2 separate regions of the Homo sapiens genome follow, and region 2 is linked to region 1. The links come from fine-mapping of genetic effects on gene expression. Tissue or cell type: aorta. Region 1 holds a variant in brackets; the other region holds the start of a gene. All regions are shown on one strand. Distances are from middle to middle.

The links. PIP is the estimated chance that this variant, and not a neighbour inherited with it, causes the effect.
Region 2: MSX1 starts here. The variant in region 1 is fine-mapped to the expression of MSX1 in aorta (GTEx, PIP above 0.99).

What each region holds. Positions count from the first base shown.
Region 1 is chr4:4,977,068-4,985,169 of GRCh38, reverse strand. All of the region lies in intron 2 of LOC101928306 (a long non-coding RNA gene), which reads right to left. Among named protein-coding and RNA genes, the nearest start is that of CYTL1, 38 kb to the left of the region's middle. The variant C/G (reference allele first, on the strand shown) is at 4,164.
Region 2 is chr4:4,855,896-4,863,997 of GRCh38, reverse strand. MSX1 (msh homeobox 1) reads right to left here and starts at 4,333. Exons shown (of 2, transcript NM_002448.3): 1 at 3,630-4,333; 2 at 62-1,297. The coding sequence starts at 4,098. The coding sequence ends at 855. RefSeq lists an enhancer at 1,017-1,688 and silencers at 3,742-4,181, 4,192-4,431, 4,452-4,511.

The DNA of each region.
Region 1 (8,102 bases):
TTCCTGGCCTCCTGTCTCACTCCCTCCTTCATCAGACACTCTGCAAATCTCCACCCTAGGAGAAGAAGAGGAAAAGACCCTGTGTGTCCATCACAGGGAAGATGGAGGGGATGCAATGCCCTGGCGTATAAGTGACAGATTTCACCACCACTTCACAGCAACATGATGGATCTTAAGACCTCACACAAGGCTGAGAAGGAAGAAAGAAAGAAGGAAGGAAGGAGAAGGAAGAAAGGACAGGAGGAAAGAAAGAAGAAAGGGAGAAATTGAGATATAGGACCCAACACGTCCTACAAAAATATATATATCCATACAAATAGCAGCACATATTTTATAATTGAAAAGTACACGTCAAAACTGTAGAACGGTTGACTATGGGACGAACGGAGCTGGGATATGGGGCTAAGAGGGAAGAAATCAGAGAAAATAAAGGCTTTCTCCTACTAGATGGGGATGAGGTCAGGAAATAAGAATATGATCACCACAACCCTCTGCATATGAGGCTCCATAAGAAAGAAAACATAAGGAAAAGCTAAGCACAGACACAGACACACACACACACACACACACACACACACACACAGGCAAATCCTACTGTAAAAATGACCTGTTTTTTGATTATTCCAATGAGCCATGCTTGCTGCATGCCAGGCTTTGGACATGCAATTCCCTCTGCATGAAATGCTGTTCCCTACACTTTCAGCCACTCAACTTTGCCCGTCCTTCAGCTGTCTCCATTTCCTGTCCTTCCCCCACCTGCCCCACCTGGGCCAGGTGGCCATACCTGTTGTATTAGTCAGCTCAGGCTGCTCTAACAGAACACTACAGACCAGGCAGCTTAAAGAACAGGAGTTTCTTTTCTCACAGTTCGGCAGGCTGGAAGTCCAGGATAAAGGTGCAACAGGGTTGGTTCCTGGTAAGGCCTCTCTACCTGGCTTGTAGACAGCCACCTTCTTGCTGTGTCCTCACACAGTCTTTCCTGTGTGGATGCTCGAGGGGAGAGGGCTCTGGTGTCTCTTCCCCTCCTTATGAGGACACCAACTGTACTAGATTGGGGCCCCACTCTGATGGTCTCATTTCACCTTAATCACCTCCCTAAAGGCCCTATCTCCAATGACAATCACACTCTGAAGTATGGGGTTTCAGGGCTTCCACATGTGAATGTGGGTGAGGGGGACACAGTTTAGCCCCCAACACCCCTCCTGCCCGTGTTCGCTTTCCTTCAACAGTTTCTCACGCACCTGCGCGTATCCGAGGCTATCCTCTGAGCACACCCATGTCAGGACTCACGCACCTTCCATGGTCATCCTCGCCTGCTCAAACACACCTTTGCCCCCTCCTCCTTGCCGCAAAACTCACAGACCCGCATGATGTTTCAGTGGGCAAATGCAAAGGTCCCTCTCAGCCCACGTCCCTGGGACTTCCCCATGAGAGCCTGCCTTGCCTGGTCCTTGGGCTCTGCCCTCTCCTCTCCTTTCTCTGCTTTTCACCCCAGCAGTGGCTTCTTGCTGCTTCCACATGCCAGCCCGGCTCCCCTGGACCCACTCCCATTCCTCTCTGCATGGTTCCTGGGGGGTCTCTCCACACCATGACCCCCTCTTACGTGGTTCACTGGCCATGTGGATGCCACAGGCCCCTCCAGCTCTGTACAGCATGAATGAATTCATCTCTTTCCCCCACAAGCCTATTCTCTGTCTGGCCCCACCACTGGTGACACTGGAGACCTGGGCATCCTCTGTGACTCCTCCGTCAATCCCTCCATTGGACCAACCACCAAATGCTGTCCTTCCATCCTGCTGCTTGTCTCAGCTCCCTGCAGGTTGGGGATTGCTTTGCTGTGCAGGGACACCAAGATGTGGGAAGCAGAGGCTGGACTCAAGAGTCCTGCCAGAGGCAGATTTCGAGACAAGCAAGTGAAGGCGGTTGGATAGATGGAGAGGAGGGTGTTCAACTGGTCTGCTCATGGCTCCATCCCCACCAAGAAACAGAGACTCTCAAACTGTTTAATACAAATACTTTAATACAAAGACTTTAATACAAAGACTACTCACCAAGTTGTGAACGAGGTTTGGGTAACCAGCAAGAGACAGTGTAGAACCCAGGGGCTAAGGGCAGGGGGTAGTGTCACTGCTCCTAGGCCCGATGGGGAGTGAGGGGGTGGTCTCTGGAACGGAGACAGAAACACAAGATGGGAGCAACGGGCCAGAGCAGTGGGGCTCTAGCAGACAGAAGCAGCCCGTCCTAAGCAACCTCATGTGTTCATGTATGTATGTATGTATGTATTATTATTATTATTATTATTATTAGACGGAGTTTTGCTCTTGTTGCCCAGGCTGGAGGGCAAAGATGTGATCTTGGCTCACCGCAACCTCCGCCTCCCGAGTTCAAGCGATTCTCCTGCCTCAGCCTCCCAGGTAGTTGGGATTACAGGCATGTGCCACCACGCCCAGCTAATTTTGTATTTTTAATAGAGATGGGGTTTCTCCATGTTGGTCAGGCTGGTCTCAAACTCCCGACCTCAGGTGATCCGTCCACCTTAGCCTCCCAAAGTGCTGGGATTACAGGCCTGAGCCACCACGCCTGGCCATATGAATATTATTTCGGTATGATAAGGCCAGCAGATTGGGAGAGGACTGACACTGAAAAGATCATTTGTCCCTTAGAGTTCCCAATAAGAAAGGGCCCACCATGCTATGAAGAGCCACTGGGGAAACACGTAGGTGGGTCAGGAGACAGGGAGGGGAGACACAGTAGGCAAGAACCTCCATTGAGGTTTTGATTGGAAGGAATGAAAGAGGCAGGGCAGGCAGGCTTAGGATTGCTGGTTTGAATAATTTTAGCTGATCTGGGGCTCAGAGTTGCTGCCCTGCATTGTCTGGTTTCCAGCCCTGGGATGATCAGGGCAGGTGGAGTGTGACAGCCCCATAGGGGAGGAGGTGGAGGGTGTGGGCTCTGGATCAGTTGGTTGGCGTTTGAAAAGCACACTCTTGAGCGAATTGTTGACCATTTCTAGATTGGCCAGCCCTGGGAGGGGCAGTCCCTCCAGGATTAGCAAGGCCTCAGACGTCAAAGAATCTGAATACAGAACACAAAAGACACGTGCATACACCACACAGAGAGGGAGTTAGGGGAACCAACACCCATTCCCACTCTTCTCCCGCCCTCAGATCTCCTGCTGATGTCGCCCCTTGGCCAAACCCAACAGGAATCTGGAGGGTGAGAAAGATGGCTGGGACAGTCAGGGAGGGGAGTGGCTCTGAAGAGGGACTGGACTCAGCAGCCACTAAACTAAGCTCCCGTGCAGACAAGAGTTCTTTATTCCTTTTGAAATCTTCCCAATACGTGCTGGTTGAATGGAGATGCAATCAGCCTGGGGAGATACAACACGGCTTGCAGAAGGAAACGCATCCTGAGCTGGGTTTTGAGGGATGAATAGGCATTTTCCAGGGAATGCTAGACACATAAATGGAAGAGCATAAGCAAAGGGATGGAGATTAACACAATATGTTTGGCAAGCTGCAAGCTTTGCAACAGTTCTGGATTGTGAAATTTCTGGGGAGGAGGCTGGCACAGAGCAGATTCCCTGGGAGTGTCTCTGCCCTCGGTCATTTCATTCTCCTCTATGGGCCTCTCTGCAAAGCAATGTGTTCATGTGTGTAAAGTGCTTCCAAGGGGGCTGGTACAGAGGGAAATACTTGGTAAATAGTGGTGATTATCATAATGATTATTAGCATGCCTAATAATATCACCTCCCCTACTTTCCCGGCCTCTGGGGTACCTCAAATTGGACACCATATTAGAAGTTCTTTGCAAAACAAAGGACCAACAGAACTCAAGGCAGAAGCAAGGCCACAGGGCTCAGGCAACCATCTCCTGTGGGTAATAGTCTGGTTTCAGGGCAGGTGAGCCAGCCCAGAAGTCAGGCCCAATGGCTCCGGCGCTCTGAGACAGGGACGATGGCTGGCCTGTTTGGGATTCCCTAGCCTCATCGATCAAATGATCCAGGGATGAGGGAGAATGCCAGGGTCTATTTCCCATCTGTGATCAGCCTTGACTCCAAGCCCATACTCCACACCCAGTTTTCTGGAAGAGGGAGAAATAGCCCTCGAGGGCCAAAGAATATAATACCCTTGGATGCCCCAGCTGTGTGAGACCGTCTGAGA[C/G]GCCTTTATCACTGCACACAGCGGCTGCCAAAGTCAGACCTAACTCCTTCCCAGGAAATTCTTGGCTCTGCTTGTGAGCAGCCCGTCTGGTGGAATTAATTTCAGCCTATATGATGCTAACGCCATGAGAACAGAGACATATAAAACAGTCCTCCCAAGGCTTTGCGTGGCAATAAAGACTGAACCGTGCTTAATTTATGCACATTGCAAGGCTACCCTCTGCAGGAAGCATAAAGCCATCCCTTGTGGGGGCTGGAACAGTAAGGGGCTCCTCTTGACCCTGGGCCTCACGGAGGGAGCTCATTCCCTCTTCCCAGGCTCCTTCCATCTTTCTGCGTGGATTGTGGATTTCCAGACTTGGGCTCTGGCCTTTATCAGTGAGACAGCCATGGTGTAGGGGATCTGCAAGGGCTGTAGAACTGGAGGTGGAACTATGTACTTAGTTCCATGCAAACCACTGAGGAAGGGACACTCGGGAGGTGATCTGCATCCTGGAGTCATGGGGCTATCATCTGCTAATGCTAGAGAGAGATTTTGAGATCATCTAATTCAGACCCAGGTGAGTTCAGAGATTTAAAATGATGGAACCAAAGTCACACAACACACTCATGGAAGGATCTGGACTTTGACATCAGAATAGGGGTGGGGCAAGTTCAAAAATGTGGAGTTGGAGAGTCCCGGGTTAGAACCCAGACTCTGCCAGGTCCTTGCTTTCTGACTTCAAGCAAGTTATTTCAACTCTGTGTTTCGTTTCCTTGTTCATAAAGTAAGTGCACCATGGGAATTCTGGGAGAATTAAAGGAGATAGTGTTTGTTCAGCATAACCACATGCCCAGCATATGGTAAATATCCAGCAATAGTAGCTATTGCTGTTATGGCTTCTGAGTAAATGCATATTTTAGTGTGGGTTTCTTTCAAGCTAAGACAGGGATTTAGGTATAAGTAGTGATACGTTTTCGATCTGTGTCCCCACCAAAATTTCATGTCAAATTCTAATCCCCAAAGTTGGAAGTGGGGCCCAGTGGGAGGTGACTGGATCATGGGGGTGGATCCTTCATGAATGGCTTAGCGCCGTCCCCTTGGTGCTGTTCTTATGATAGTGAGTGAGTCATCACAAGATCTGGTTGTTTAAAAGTGTGTAGCACCTTCTCCCTCTCTCTCTTGCTCCTGCTCCTGCCATGTGAGATGCTTCACTCCCCGTTTGCCTTCCGCCATGATTGTAAGCTTTCTGAGACCTCCCCAGAAGCTGAGCAGATGCCAGAGTCGTGCTTCCTGTACAGCCCGTGGAACTCTGAGCCAAATAAACTTTTTTCCTTATAAATGGCTGTCTCAGGTATTTCTTTATAGCAGTGTGAGAATGGACTTAAACACGTGGCTTGTTAAGGAAGATGATCCCAGGAAGCAGGAGTAAGGGAACAAGGCAAATGAGACAGGAAAGCAGGAAAAGAAACCAGTGTGAGGGTTTGCTATTGTCTTAGTCCATTCACGCAGCTATAACAAAATACTATAAACTGGGTGGCTTATAAACAACAGATATTTATCTCTTACAGTTCTGGAGGCTGGCAAGTCCAAGACCAAAGCACTGCAGATTTGGTGTCTCGAGAAGCCTGCTTTATAGTTTCCAGATGAGGCCTTCTTATGGTTTCTAGATGAGGCCTTCTTATGGTTTCTAGATGAGGCCTTCTTATGGTTTCTAGAGGAGGCCTTCTTATGGTTTCTAGAGGAGGCCTTCTTGCTGCATCTTCACATTGTGGAAGGGGCAAGGGAGCTCTGTGGGCCTCATTTGTCCCAGTCATGAGGTCTCCACCCCCATGACCTAATCATCTCCCAGAGACCCTGCCCTCTAATACTATAATATTGGTGATTAGCTTTCTACACAGGAATTTGCAAAGATACAAACATTCAGACTGTTATGACAGTTACCACGAATGCTGCTGTGGACAATGGGAGCTCAATTCTGCTGGGGAACTTTACAGAGAAATTTATAAAACTATCAAGGATATAAAAAAGACCTAAATAAATGAAGTGATGGAGCAAGGAAGAACCAGAGTGGTATTATATTGTTTTTTGTTTTTGTTTTTGTTTTTGAGATGGAGTCTCACTCTTGTCACCCAGGCTGGGGTGCAATGTTGGGATCTTGGTCACTGCAACCTCCACCTCCTGAGTTTAAGCAATTCTCCTGCCTCAGCCTCCCAGGTAGCTGGAATTCCAAGTGGGTGCCACCATGCCCAACTAATTTTTGTATTTTTACTACAGACGGGGTTTCGTCATGTTGGCCAGGCTGGTCTCGAACTCCTGACCTCAAGTGATCCACCCACCTCAGCTTCTCAAAGTGCTGGGATTACATGCATGAGCCACTGTGCCCAGCTGGTGTTATATTGTTAAAAGCAAAACCATAGACAAGTTAAAATTAAAAGAGTTTAGTTGAACAAAGAATGATTTGCAAATCAGGCAAACTTCTGAACCAGAGTAGGCTCAGAGACTCCAGCACAGCCATGTGGTGGAAGAACATTTATGGTCAGAAAAAGGAAAGTGACCTACAGACAATAGAATTGAGGCACAGAAAGAGCTAGATGGATTATAGCTCGGCATTTGCCTTATTTGAAAAGTTTGAACATTTGGCTGTCTTTAATTCGCCCAAACACAGTGACTGGCGCAAGAGTAGGTTAGTTTGTTTACACATCCAATTCAGTTGCAGTTTATTATGTACAGATACAACTTTAGACTGAACGTAAAATGTATAAGGAGGCAGCTTTAGTCTAAACTTGATTTAACAATATTAGTTAAGATCTGGCCAGGGAAAGAAAAAATATTCTGGGAACTCTAAGGATGAAGAGACACGATACAGAATTGGAGGTTTTCATAGTCTTTGGAAAGTTGAGGGAGCAAAACCCAGGAAGGGCACGGTCAGGAATTCTGAGGGTTCTGGGATCACAGGGCAGATGCTGGAGCCCAGTGTGAGTGCTTCTCAAAAGGATGCTCAAAGTTGTGGTCAAAATTCCTTGTCTGTGCTTTGCCATACACACAGAGTCCCAGAGAGAAGAAATAGGCCTTCACTTCCTCCTTCCAACCTCATGCCAGTGCCTCGCATGATGGACTCTCACTGGGCCCATGAACAACAGAGTCTGGGAAATGTAGTTTTCGGGCTCCATGATCCAGAGGCACAGGGAAGAGCTCAGGATGATGAGGCTGGTACTGAGAATGAAGACACAATATTTGACACAGACATAGATATTGATCCCTTTCCACCCCCAGATTTATTGGCAAATGCAATGAGATGTCAACTGAATCCTCGAGAATTGTAAGAGTCATAAAAATGAATAAAAATATGAGGATAACCAAGATATTGTTGAATAAAAAGAAGAAGAAAGAGGCACCAGAGAAGGAGAAAGGGTGTGTTCAGGGTCCCAAGACCACCCCAGGTTTAATGATTCACCAGGAGACTCACAGGACTTGACATGTGGTCACCCTCATGGCTATAACTTATGACAGTTAAGGATGCAAAGCAAAATTATCAAAGGGAAAAGGCACGAGGGCAAAGTCCAGAGAAAACTGGGTGCAAGCTTCTAAGGGTCCTCTCCAAGTGGAGTTGCATGGGACTCACTTGATTCTTCCAGCAATGTGCTATGACAGCACATCTATCAGGGAAGGCCACTGAGACTCATTGTCCAGGGTTTTTACTGCTGGCTGGATACATGGGCCCCCTCTGCCTGACATGCACCAAACTTCCAGACTCCTGGAAGTAAAGCAGGTGGTTAACATGAACCTACTCTTTGTACAAATGCTTTAGACACAGTGAGCCACTCTTATCAGTTCTGGAAATGGTGGCAACCATCCCCAAATCCAAGTTCCCAGCCATCATTCCACGGCCAACTTTGTAAGCAGGACTTTCTAAAGAGAGCAGTATCAGGACTGCTATATGAGCTCTTTTCTCCACAA
Region 2 (8,102 bases), 120 kb after region 1:
ACACATAAAGAGATAGCAAGAAGCAAAATTAAAATAAAAGACTCAATCAGTAAAGAGATAATTTTTGTAGCTTAAAATTAATTTATTTAACAAATATAGCTATAATATAAATGATAATAAAATTTCAAATATACAGTATATTACATAGTACACACAATCCCTTCCAAAGGGATGTTTGAGAGCCACACAAATGTACTGTTAAATAGAAAGAGTTTTTTTTTTTTTTTAATTTTACAATTGTGTTTCTGGTACTGGTAAGAGAGAGGTCCCTTCAACCTACCTTTGCAACACATCTGTGTTTTCCCTGCCCCCCAGAGCAAATGTTTTGTTGTTGAACTTGTCTTAAATTTTCCAATGGAAGAAGCTAGGATTCATCTTCCTGGCTGGCTAGTCTTTTTTTTCTCTTTTCTTTTTTTTTTTTTTTTTTTTTTTTTTTTTTTTTTTTGAGATTGTTCTCATTTCCAAAATCGTCAGACACCGATTTCTCTGCGCTTTTCTTGCCTGGTGTCAGGACAGGGAAAAGCTATGCAGGAGACATGGCCTCTAGCTCTGTTCAACTGTCAATTCTGCTGGGGACCTTAGATAAATCTGTTAACCTCTCTGCCCTCAGTTTCCCCATCTTTAACTCGAGAGTGTAGATCTAAATGCTAGAAGAGTACTAAGGGACTCTTCCAGCCACTTTTTGGCAGGGATCAGACTTCGGAGAGTGAACTCAGGGAGCAAAGAGGTGAAACTGGAGCAGTGTGAGGGTTAAAGGGAAGGCGGCTGGCGGTGCCGAGCAGGGGAGCACGTCGGGGGTACAGCACCAGGGCTGGAGGAATCGGCTGGCCCACAGGTGGGCGACCTGGGACCCTCTATGTCAGGTGGTACATGCTGTAGCCCACATGGGCCGTGTAGAGTCCCACGGGCGCCACAGGCAGCGCGGCGCGCTGGAAGGGGCCAGAGGCACCGTAGAGCGAGGCACCCGCCGCGGCCGCTACAGCTGCGGGGCCGCCGAGAGGGAAGGAGAGGCCGAAGGCAGCCGGTGGCAGCATGGGCTTGGCGGCCATCTTCAGCTTCTCCAGCTCTGCCTCTTGTAGTCTCTTTGCCTTGGCGCGGCGGTTCTGGAACCATATCTTCACCTGCGTCTCAGTGAGGCTGAGCGAGCTGGAGAACTCCGCGCGCTCGGCGATGGACAGGTACTGCTTCTGGCGGAACTTGCGCTCCAGCGCCAGCAGCTGCGCGGTGGTGAAGGGCGTCCGCGGCTTACGGTTCGTCTTGTGTTTGCGGAGGGTGCAGGCTGGGGGGCTCAGCCGCCCTGAGGGCCGAAAGAAAAAAAAAGCAAGGGGTTAAGAGAGAAGCATTGGAGCATGATCAGCCCAAGAAGTAGTAATAATAGCCAAACAATACCAGATATTGAGTGCCGCCAAGTGCCTCGGTGCCGGGCATCGCGCAAGGCACTTGAAATATATTTTCTCCAATTCCCATTGCAACCCCGCAGGGGAGAAGTTCCTGTCTACTTTTTGCAAATGAAGAAACTAAGATTCCAGGAGAAAAATACCCACGTTGAAGGCTCGATGTCCACATCTTAGGCCTAAACAGCTGGGAAGATGTGAAATCACCTTTGTGCTGCCCGGCGGCTTAGGAAGGCCTTCATGGCGGGCCTCCTCCCAGGGCCATCCAGAGGAAAGGTGGATGTTAATACAGTTGACGAACATGCAGAAAGAGGCCCTGCGCCCAGCCCAAGGGCACATTTAGTTTTACGCGTTGGCCAAACATTTATCAGTGCCCACGGAGTGCTTCAGTGTGGGGCTAGGCAGTTTTGTGGCATAGAATCCAAATCAAATTCTACACTTTCCCCGGAACACTTCGCTCCTACGGGATTCTAGGAGTAGTTCCCGCAGACCAGAGATGGAGCAGCGCAGACCATCATGGAGGGTGCACTGTGGCCAGCCCTCTTAGAAACAGAAAGTGTCATCTGGAGCGGAGAACGAGGGGCTGCTTTATTCTAATGGGCTTTTTCTTTAGATTGTCTCAGTCCTCTGTTGGATCGCGTTCACCCCTGGCGCCAGGGCCCTCTGGCCCCACTCAAACGTTTGTGTGTGTGTGTGTGTGTGTGTGTTGATGTTGTTGCGGGGGGAGTGTTGAGATCGCCTCTCCCCTCAACCTGTGGCATAGTCAGCAGACATCAACATGCCCAGCTGTCTTTTTCTTTTGGCTTCAAAATAAACCTCAAGGGTGGACAGTGAAGAAGCATCAGAGCGCAGGACTAGTGCAGGTCGGGGATGGGGTCTGCTGGGGACTGCCCCCGGATAAAATGTGGAACAAATTATCCCAACACAGCCGGGATCGCTTTGACTTCGGGGTCTTGGGGCCCAAGGCCCTAAGCGTTGGAAAGGACACTTTGCCTATGCAGCAGCTTTCCCGGCAGAAAGTGAATTCAAATCGAAGATGTTTCACCACGCGGGTTTTGCCTAAGTATGCATTTTTTCACACCTCTCTAAAAAACAACCACAAACAAACAGAAAAAACAAAACAAAACAAAGAAAACACAACGATCCTTTGGACTTTCAGACCACCAGGATGTGAGTCAAACGAAATCTCGTGTTAACACCCCGCTTCTTCCCTGCTGGAGGCCACCGGGAGTCCGGGAAGCGCTTGGCCCCCAACTAGCTTTCCGCCGGGCCGCCCGAGGGGCGGGCGCCGAGAGAAACGTCACTCCCTTCAGCGGCGACAACCCAGAGCGGGGCCACCTTCTCCGGCCATTAGGCTTAGGGAGGGACTGGCCTTTCAAAGACGTTTAATCCCCAGATAAAAATCATTCCTCAGCATCACGCCATTGAAATCTGGCTGCTATTATGCCGAGCAAAATAATCGGAGGAAACGAGGAAAACTTGGGAATTTCCCGTGCTCCTGAAATATCTCCGAGCGTGTTCTCTGAGTAGAGCAGCCAGGGGGCCGTGAGGCCTTGGAGCGAACCGCCTTGGGCACCTGGAGTCCACTTTAATGGCTCAGTCCTAGACGTTTGGGAGCTTCCCATAGGATTAGCGGGGGCGCCTTCCCCTAATTGACTTGGTGCCCCGCCCCCTCCACTGGAACCTGAATGTCCCCACCCCTGAATCATCCATCCGCCCAAAGCACCAACTATCTGCCTCAAACTCAAAGGGCATGGGGAGGTAGAATTCTGTAGGAGCTTCGGAACCTCTAGGCAAAGAGGTACTTGAAAGGGAAGAGGGGCTGGGGGACACCAGCTCCTACTGCGAGAAAGTGAAACTCCGGGTGCAGGGAAGATACCGCACCACACACATTCATCCGCTGGGGTGAAGCCGATGAAACAGAGTTTGGGATCAGATGAGGGATCATGGACCCCTGAGGTCGTTTGGTGGGGGCAGGAGGACAGGGTGCCCAGACATCGGTGTCCTATCCGTTAACTCCCACCCGCAGCGTCTCTGGGCCAAGGCGAGGAGGTCTGGAACCTTCTTCCTGGGTGGGAGTGGAGGGAGGCGCAAGACCCGGCCTTGCAGCCCACGGCTCCCTAGCACCGGCTGCAGGTACGCAGGCGCCGGAGGCCACCAGGAGCCCTCGGGTCCCACACCCCACCCGGCCCCCACCCGGCCCCCTCCCTCTGCGCCTGGGTTCTGGCTACTCACTGGCCGGCGGCGGGGAGAAGCGGGGGCTCTGCATCCACGGGGTCCTCTCGGGCTTCTCGGGGCTCTCGGCTTTGACGAGCGCATCTTCTGGCAGCTTGAGGAGTCCCCCCACCGAGAAATGGCCGAGCGGCCGCGGCGAAGAGGGCGCGTCCGGGGCTCCCAGCGACCCCGGCGGGACGCCCAGTGGCTGCGCCGAGCCACCCGCCGCCTGCACGCCCTCGGAGGGCGCCAGGGCGCTCTCCTTGGCCCCCGGCTTCCTGTGGTCGGCCATGAGCGCCTCCACGCTGAAGGGCAGGAGCGAAGGGGACACTTTGGGCTTGGCCCCCTCCTCGTCCGCGCCCATGGCGGCTGCCGTGGCCGCGGCGGCGCTGGGGGCCTGGCCCGCGCCTCCCCCCGCCGGCTTGCCGAAGGCGGAGTCCTCCACTTTGACACCGAGTGGCAAAGAAGTCATGTCAGCAGCCGGGGCCATGCAGAGCCGGGCCCCCCCTTCTGCCGCAGCACTGGCCAGCCGCCGGGCATGGGCTCCGGGCGGGCTGGGAGCGCGGCCGGCCTCTGCGAGCGCCCGGGGCCCTGGCCGGGCGGACCCTCCCGCGCGCGCCTCCCGCCCCTCCCCAGCAGGCCAGCTCCGGCGTGCTGGGCCTGGCCTCCGGTCGCTGCCGCCGCGCAGGCAGAGTTCCCGGGAGCACTCGCCGGCTCCGGGCCCTACCGCGGCTCCCCAGAGAACTTGCTAATAAGGCGAGGCCAGCGGGGCGGCGGCCAATCAGCGCGCGAGGGGGCGGGCCCGGAGCGATCCATTGGGCCGCGCTCCTGGGGACTCGCCCGGAGGCGCGCTGGGCCTGGGGGCACGCAGGGCAGGGCCCAGGCGGCGGAGGGCAGGGGAGGAGAGGGGGTGCCCGGGAAACTTTCCTCTGCGCTGAAGCCCAAGAGGCCCTCTCTGCGGGAGTCCCCTGGGTCTCTATCTTTCTGTGTTCCCGGGGGATTTTCCCTTGTTCTCGTTCCTTCTCTTCTGCCCTCCTCTCCTCCCCTCCCCTCCCCTCCTCAGCCCTCTTTTCCGCTCCTCTTTTTTTCCCCGTCCTTGTTTCTCTCCTCTACTGCTTCTTTTACCTTTCTCTTTAGTCTGTGGCTGGGTTTCCCTGTGCCCCCCTCCACTGTCTGACCCCCCCTCTTCTTCTACCACAATAATTTGAGTTGAGGTTATTTCTTACACATTCCTTTTATATATAGTTTTTAAAATACGCATGGCTATTTATCCTAGGAGAAAGACATACTATTAACTTCTTTTCAAGAAACGAAACAAAACCAAACCTTCATTTTCTTCCTGTTCTGAAATCTTGTAAACTTTACCTCGAGGTAAAAGTGGGCCTTTGTCTCTAACTTAGAGCTGGAGTAAACCTTGCGGGAAGAAGCTAGCTTCCTGTAGTGCCAAGGATGTGAGAATACGTAAGATTATCTAGAATCTGCAGTCGGTTTTCATACACGATGTGTATTCCCCCCCCCCCACCCTCGCTCTGAACTTCTGTCCCAAGGGTCACAACACCTATAGCGCCCGGGCGGGGAAAGGAGCTGCCAGATCCTTTTGATATAGAACTTACTGAAATAAAACCAACAGAATCGTCAATGAAACACCGATCTGGCCTTAAGGTGACCTCAAACAACGCGTCCTCGGAAACAATGACATGTCCCTATCTCTGGGCCGCTGATCCTGGAGGGGAGAGGCACATTTGGGGGAGGGGGCTGGGAAAAGAGGAAAGTTCCTGGAGGTGGACTCTAGTGTGGGACTTGAGAACTCTTCTTTTGCCAATTTCGGAGAAAACGTGATTTAATGTTTGCTGTTAATAATAATAATAATAATAAAGACAGAAAAAATGAGTTGGGGTCAGGGGAGATGCAAGATCTGCCTGAAGCGGGGTCGGGGCTTGGCCATTTTCTGCGCCTGTCGCTTTATGGCCTCTCCTCCTGCGGCCCAGGCCAGCGGCTCTCAGGGAGTGAGCGGAGGTGATTGGCGGCTCACTCGGCCCTGCCATTGATGACTGCGGGGTTCTAATCTCCAGGAAACACAAGGGGCTGCCGTGGCCATTTAGGGGTAATTATCCGAGCGCGGAGGGACAGCGAATTCCCTCGACTTTTAACTGGGCGCAATAAAAGCTGTAGATTAGGGGCGTCCAGATTAGGGAAAATGAATTAGAGCGGGAACTTTATTATCCGGAAGACGTCCGGGGTCTGGCGGCAGGGGTCGGGCTGCGGACGCCGGAGCGATTGGTAGCCTCCCATCTGTCCACAGGCCGCCGAGATATGCTGAGGCCTGGGGAAGTTCGGGAATACCGGCATCTGAATTTTACGCACATCTCCAGGTTTCTAAAGGACCCAAGACTGCAACTCAGGCACTGGGCAGTGGTTGGGGCTTCTAGCTCGAGTTGGGCCGGCTGGACGCGCGGTGCACCGGGGCCTCCGGAGGTTTGCCCGAGAGGGTACAAGGATAGAAGACCTTAAGACCCAATTTTGAAGCTCAGCTCGCTGAGGCTGAGCAAGGCTGTAGGGCAAATACCTTGCTGGTAGCCCAGCCAGGACAGCGAACAACAGCATCTTCCTCTTCTTCCTCTTCTTCTTCTTCTTCCTCTTCCTCTTTTTCTTCCTCTTTTCTCCTCCTCCTCATCCTCCTCTTCCTCCTCTCCTCCTCATCTCCTCCTCCTCCTCCTCCTTCTTCTTCCTCTTCCTCTTCTTTGAGACGGAGTTTTGCTCTTGTCGCCCAGGCTGGAGTGCAATGGCGCGATCTCAGTTCACTCCAACCTCCGCCTCCCAGGTTCAAGCGATTCCAGGACGGCGAACTTCTATTGCTCCCGTTCTAATCAAACTCTCGTCAGAACAACCCCCTCCGCACCCAGCCAGAATCTCCCTTTGTGGCCAGGTTAAAGGGGGAGAGGAAACAGAGGCCTATCTGCTTTTGGGGCCATTTAAAAAGCGAGCAGTGTGCCTTTTCGAGTCTTTGCTTAGTTCCGCCCTCGCCCTCCTTCTGCAAATGTTTTGCTCCCAGGTCTCTTTAAGAATCTGATACAGCCAAGAACTTCTTCCCTAGAAAAATGCACACCTACAAAAACACATTACAAGCAACGGGGCAGACAACTTCGGGGGCTCTGGTCCCAAGTGGAGTCCTCCAGTTAAGAACCCCTGCTTTAGGGCTGAGCGGGGGCTTGAACTCAGAGAGCGAAGCCGCATGGTGCAGCGGGGGCTAGTGTGGAACTTGCGGCGGTCGCAGTTGAGGAGCGCAGCAAGGCCTGGACTCCGCCGCGGGGGGGGGGGGGGGGGCGGGGGGCCCGGGGGCGGGCGGCCTGAAAAGGGCCGCATCGCTAATTGCGGGGATAAACAATGTGTCACGATTCCTCAGCGCGCCTAATAGGCAGACTAGGATGTTGTTTTAAGGCGCCAGCGGCGGCCGGATCAAAGGCTGCACCCGGCGCACGGGCCCTTGAAGTCGCGCCCCTGCCTCCGGGGAGCAAATCGCCTGGCCCCGCAGCACCGGCCCCGCAGCCAGCCCCTCGGCTTCCCGAGCCGGGTCTGAACGCCACGGTGTCTTCTTTATAGGTTCGGCCTGGGTTCGTGTCTGCTGTCGCCCCGCGCGGCAGGTTAACCGCGTGTAAACGTTGCTAGGCGAGAAGAGTGCATCGGCAGAGAAGGGGGTTCAGACTCAATTCCGTGTCAGAAAAGCGCGGGGCTTTCCCATTGCTCTGCCCCTGGATTGCGAGAGAAAGAAAGGTGCCGGCAGTCTCAAGAGAAAGGAGTCAGATAAAAGAAATAAAATGTCTGCCTGTTTCCCAGGGCGTTGTTTGTTCCCGCGGGAGGAAAGCCACGAGTTACAGGGGCAGTGAGAGGGAGACTTCTCTGAGTTATTTTTTGTCTAGGACTTTACCGATTTCCCGGCCCAGGGGTTCAGCGAGCAGGCAGGCCCTGGGGCTGAGCCTGTTATCTCGCCGCCAGCTCTAACCTCGAGGCGTTTGTACCCCCGGCATTTCTCTGCGCTGCCGCTGCAGCCGAGAAAGCCGGGCAGTAATTCATGCCTGGCAAGGGCAGGGCTGGCCCCAGCAGATAAAGCTCGGGGACTGGCGCTCCGCTTCCATCCTCTAGACTTCTCTCCCCTCCCCTCTCGCTCCATCTCCCCTCATTTTCAGGCATCCTAAAGCACTCCCCGCCCCCAAGTAGAGGGCCTCTGCATTTCGGATCCTGAAGATGGATTATCCTTCGTCTACTTTCTGGGCAACTAAACTGGTGGTGGGTTTAGCTGGTTTTTTTTTTCCCCCAAAATTTTGCGGGGGTTGGGGGGATGGAGGCAGGGATGGTGGTGTTGCTAAGTATACACCACTCCCGTGCAAAGATTAATTTTTAGAAGGACCCCGTCCTAAAGACGGTTATCCCTATCTGGGTATTGCTGCACCGGTTGGAAGAGCCTGGAGGCTGACTTCTCACTTCGGCATTTGTTGT